2 separate regions of the Homo sapiens genome follow, and region 1 is linked to region 2. The links come from fine-mapping of genetic effects on gene expression. A gene starts in region 2. The other region holds a variant in brackets. All regions are shown on one strand. Distances are between the middles of the regions.

The links. PIP is the estimated chance that this variant, and not a neighbour inherited with it, causes the effect.
Region 1: its variant is fine-mapped to the expression of SINHCAF in whole blood (TOPMed, PIP above 0.99).

Annotation. Positions count from the first base shown.
Region 1 is chr12:31,268,984-31,271,792 of GRCh38, reverse strand. No RefSeq gene overlaps it. Among named protein-coding and RNA genes, the nearest start is that of FLJ13224, 54 kb to the left of the region's middle. The variant A/C (reference allele first, on the strand shown) is at 1,318.
Region 2 is chr12:31,324,826-31,327,634 of GRCh38, reverse strand. SINHCAF (SIN3-HDAC complex associated factor) reads left to right here and starts at 1,485. Exons shown (of 6, transcript NM_001135812.2): 1 at 1,485-1,611. FLJ13224 (a long non-coding RNA gene) reads right to left here. Exons shown (of 1, transcript NR_026806.1): 1 at 1,690-2,809. RefSeq lists an enhancer at 1,465-2,396.

The DNA of each region.
Region 1 (2,809 bases), 56 kb after region 2:
TAATTTTATATTATCACAAAGGAGGAAGAAGGTATATTTGTATCCACCTTCTTCCTTCCCCAAATGCCATTTTCCTAGAAGACTGCCGTTGCGGATAAAGACATGCAATGTGATTTGCAACCCTTGGATATCACAGACATGGTGGCCACATTTCTAAACTTTTAGGACAGCTGGATTTCTGTCCAGTGTATTTTTGGAGATTGAGTTGATGTCATACCATTGAGGCCAGAAGCTACCAAACCTTTCCTAAAGCCTCCAGTCAACCTGGTTGTGAATGCAGCGTGTTGCCACTGTCTTTAAAGCTGTGATTTCTAAAGTTATATGTAAGACTGGCCCATTGAAGTGTGCAAAGTAAAAATTAGAACTCCTATTTCTGTTGATTTTTCCTCATTTTCTCTCCTGTCCTGTTTGTATATGTTTTATAATTTACATAATATTAGCAGAGTCCTACCTGTGCACAGTTCATAACAAGGAAGCATGCTGGGGCACATATACTTTTTTAAAAAAATAATTGGAAAGAGATAAAAAAGGTTTGGAGAGAGCTGCATACTTCTCTGTGCATTACATTTCAATAAGAAGTTTAGTTTACTTTTTTTTTTTGAGATGGAGCCTGCTCTGTCACAGTGCAGTGGTACGATCTCAGCTCACTACAACCTCCGCCTCCCGGGTTCAAGCGATTCTCCTGCCTCAGCCTCCCAAGCAGCTGGCACTACAGGTGTGCACCACCACACTTGGCTAATTTTTGTACTTTTAGTAGAGATGGCGTTCTACCATGTTGGCAAGGGTGGTCTCAAACTCCTGACCTCAAGTGATCCGCCTGCCTCGGCCTTCCAAAATGTTGGGATCACAGGCATGAGCCACTGCGCCTGGCCAGAAGTTTACTTTTTCAAGTACCTGAAGATCACTAATAATTTTAGAGTGATGGAGGGTTGGAAATGGGGGCGTTTATTTTCAAGTCCAAGAGATCATTTTGGTTGGTGAAATATTACAGAAAATGGCCTATGGACCTTTCCTGGATTTGAGGGAGAAGAAGAAATAATAGTTGCCAGAACTGTTTTCTGTTACACGCTGATCAAACGTTTGTTCCCTCTCCCACAGTGTAATGTTTCCTCCCCCTGCCTTTATCGCATACAGTGGTGTGTTTTTCAGAATGGGATATCCTCCTTCGGGAGTAAAGTTATTGAGCATACCTTGTCATTGGTGGAAAGGAAAAACAAATACAAAAACTGGGCAGTTACCTGGGAGCGTCTAGTTTCTTCCTTTGCCTTCCATTCAGTTGGGTAACTACAATTCTCAGCCTCAAATTATTTTTTCTTA[A/C]TCATGTTGAAAATCCATGGAAAATAGTAAGAATGACCAAACTGGTCTCTTCATTAAGGATGGGTCTCCACATTCGCCGGTTTTACTATTGAGGGCATTGAAATGGGCCATGACAGATAAAGTTACTCACCAGGCTTTTTAAAGAAGGTTGAAAATGGATGGTAGAAAATCAGCAGTTAAATTTAGATTCAGCAGTTGTAAAAATGAAGCTCCACAGCTGCCCTAACATGACAGATAATAAAGAATACAAGAAATACTAGGAAAAGGTTCACCTGGAACAGAATCAAGTCACAATATTGTGGGAGAGATTATCAGTGGATGGAGAAGCCAAGAAAACTTATTTCAGGGAAAACAAATGTGATTCCATAACTTAGCAGTGCAGTAATAGATGTTGCCAAGTACTAGAAGACCTCAAGTGATCTGCCCACCTCAGCCTCCCAAAGTGCTGGGATTACAGGTGTGAGCTACTGCACCCAGCCTAAGATATTTTTTTTTTTTAAAAAGACATCACTTGTAAATCCAGCTCTCCATCCCCATCCCCCAGTTCAGTAACAACCTTGGTCTTTTGTCTTCCATATCAGGGCTCAGCATCTAGGTCCTCCTCTTTTCCGGTAGTTCTTTATGTTTCACTGCCGCATAGGCAGTTTTCCATGTCAGTAGATGGCGGAAGAGTCAAAGAGGTTTGTTTTCTCCCGTCCAGCATTATCAGCCCGATGCAACACTGGCAGGGAGAAGAGATGGGAACTTGAGTGGTTTCATTTGTGTAGCTACAAGGAAAGAAAATTTAGGGGAAGAGGAGGTGATCCATGTTTGGAAAACTAGATTATAAAGGAACATGTATTTTCTTAGATGAACAAGGAATGCTGGCCACAGATGGTTTCTCCAGGTTTGCATGTCTGTGAAGAGCCTTGTACCCACCAGCTCCTTTATGCCATCTCTTCATGTGGAATCTTTAGCAGGAGATGAAACCTGGCTAAAGTGATCTGACAGTTAAGGTCCAAAATGAATCCTCGCAGTGACAGTTCTGCAAAGCACCAGACAAAAGTAATTAAGACAGTAGGAGCAGCAGTTGGAAAAAGTGATGGCAAATGAGTGAGGCAGTTATCCAGTAATTTCTTGTTAATTTTAGTCATTTGCTTACAAAGAAAAATATAATGTTTTGTTAAATACATGCACTCTTACTTCTTTTGTCCTCATTGATGATGGAACTGTGACTGGAATTAGAAATTCAGCTTCTGTGTTTAAAACTGGGCCTGGTGTGGTGGCTCACACCTGTAATCCCAGCACTTTGGGAGGCTAAAGTGGGAGGATTTCTTGAGGCCAGGAGTTTGAGACCAGCCTGGACAACATAGCAAGACCCTGTCTCTACAAAAAATAAAAAAACGTAGTTGAACATAGTGGCATGCACCTGTAGTTCTAGCTACTTGGGAGGTTGAGGTGGGAGGATTGCTTGAGTTCAGGATTTCTAGGCTGCAGTGAACTATGATCGTGC
Region 2 (2,809 bases):
CTCCTGCCTCAGGCTCCCGAATAGCTGGGATTACAGGTGCCCACCACCACGCCAGGCTATCTTTTCAGGTATTTATAATATAGTTTTCATATACAGTTACAGGAATAGTATGTTACAGAACCTAAAGAAAAATAAAGAAGTATTAGTTGAGGAGTTCAGAAGTGGGTTTATACTGTATGTACTAGGAATTGCCTGTTGAATTAAATTAACATTTCAGAAGTAACTATTTAAATCTGTATTGTTGACACTGCAGTGAAAGCAGCGAAACGTGTCAGCAGATGATTAAGTTTTATGGTTGATTTTCACACTTTTGTAACTTGGGACCAATATCAAGTTTCTGGGAAAAACATCCTTCCTCTCTCCCCACCCTCTATCATTAACCCCGGGTTTCTGCCTGTTGGTGTTAAGTGTGTCCTTGGGACAAAGGCGAATCAATCATTCGGTTTTCATTTTCCTCTTATCAATCTGAGAAGAGTTACTTCAGTTTTTTTCTTCCGGAGTCTAGAAAGCGCTTAGATTGTTGAATTATTACATATTCTGCATTGAAAAGTCTGTACGTCACTCGTTATTTTTTCCATTCCCAAGACCACCAGTTACTGGAATTATTTCTGGGTGAGTGGAACACCCTTTACAAGCTGCTAGAGGAGGTATGCCTGTCCCTAGGTTATTGGCTTTCCAATGCCTAGTCTTTTAAAGAAAGCGGCACTGTTCCCACGGAAATTAACAATCATTCAATTCGGAGAGACTTGAAATCTTAAGGCCGAAGTGGAGGAAAAAACTGGATTGTTATGGGTTGGGTTACTATTTGAGAAGGGCAAGCGGGAGTTAGCGAATGGCTAGGGTGTTAAAATGGGACTTTATTAAACGACTCATTACAACTGCACAAAAACTAAACCTTTGCTGGCCCCAGAGGATTTTTTTTTTACAAGCTTCAAAAACCTAACTTCAAACAAAATTTAGGAAACGTGGGATTAGTATAAATTCAGTCTGGGTGCTTACAAGACCACCTCCTCTGTCACCGACAGTGGGGACAGGTGTGAGAATTTTGCAAAAGCAGCTTTCAGAACAATTTTTCAGCGCTCAATGGTGCCCCTAACAACTTCGGGGGCGGAAAACACGCCAAGCAGCGCAGCCCTCCCCTCAGTTGCTAACCTTTCCCTTTCCCACCTCGCCTCTCCCTCTCCGCCGCGGCCTGCAGCCGGGGGGGGGGGCGTTTGTTTATGTGACGTCCGCCGTAGTAAGCAGTCCCCGCCCCCGTTTCCCTCTGGCCGCCGCGTTTCCCGCGCCGCGGAGCTTCTCCCCTTAAAAGGACAATAGAGGCCTCGGGAGCGCGCGCGGTCGCCGGGACTTCTCCCCCTCCCAGCCCGCAACGTGCGCGCGCCCGTATGCAAATAAGTTCGATTCAAGAGAATTTTGTGCCGGGAGCCGCGCGTGCGCAGAGGGAAAGCGGAATCTACACCTTCCCGGCCAGCGGTAGCAACTGCAGAACTGCAGGAGACTATCTTTCTAGACAAGGCAGTTGAGGAGGAGGGAGCGCTTGAGGGGGACTGGCCTGGCGTGCACTCCGCACCTCGGGGACATTATTGCGCGTGGAACGGCTGCTTTTGGAAGGTGAGTGACTCTCACCATGCTTCTAGTGCAAAACTGTCTCACGAGGCTTTGATTTCAGTGTTTTTTTTTTTCTCTTTTCACCTCCACCCACCTCCCCCCGTCCTTCCACATACACACAGGAAGTTTTGTCTTGGAGGTGGCATTGTTGGGAGCGCTGTTTTCGTGATCTTCAGACCCCAGGTTCTTTGGTACGCTCGTGTTTAGTGTGTATTTATTAATTGGGGAGGGTATTTGAGGCAAACCGAAAGTCTCGGGGCGGGGAAGTGAGTGGAGCCTGGGCATAATTGAGGAGTCGCCGGAGTTGAGGGATCCACGTTGAAGGTGACAATGACTTTTCTCCGCCGCAGTGTTCTCTCGCGGAAAGGAGCCCGGCGGCCGAAAGGCCCGAGAGGAAAGCGACTCGTTGGCCACCGCGCAGCGGCCGGGGTCGGTGCGTCCGCGTGGGCGCGAGGCGCGGGCAGGGTCGGGCGCCGTTGTGAAACCTCGTGGTTTAGTTGACTGCAGCCCTCGGACTAGGGTGGACAATAAACGCCATTCGCTCGGAAACTAAGTTGCCATCCGCTTCCGAGCTGGCGGCCGAGGGTCTTTAAATCGGCCTTTGGGGGTCAGTGCTGGGCTCTGCCGGAGCGCACGCGGCGTGGCGTTGTTTGCTCAACTCCGGAGGGATGCGGATGCGACAATGAGAGCAACACGCGGTCGCTTAAAAACAGCCCGTCTTCCACTCGCCTGCCCTCTTCGGACCGCGCCCAAGAGCCTCTGGTGTCCGGGGTGCTTTCGGAGCCCGAAGTTTTGCTCCCGGTGCGTTCACCTGTAGCGTAGGTGTGGGCGACACCGCGAGGGCTTCCCGTTTATGGGCGGCCGTCCGCGCTGTAAGATGGCCAGGGAAGCCAACTTGGCTGGAGATGGAGGCGGCGGCGTTGTGTACGCCGCGGGAGTCAGTGAACTCCGCAGGGCACTGCTTTTTGTGCTCTACGTGACAGACCACGTGCTTCGGGCTGCGACCCTGGTCCTTGTCCGAATGTCCAGCCCCGCGTGAGCCGTGGGATGCGGCCGCCGTCGGGCAGGTCCGGCCGGCAGGACAATGTGGTTTGCTGATGATGGCGTCTTGCCAGTTTAAAAAGCAGAGTGAAAGTCGCCAACTCTCCGCCCGTGCGGGGCGGATACTCCGGGCGTTTCTCATCAAGGACACTGCAAAACT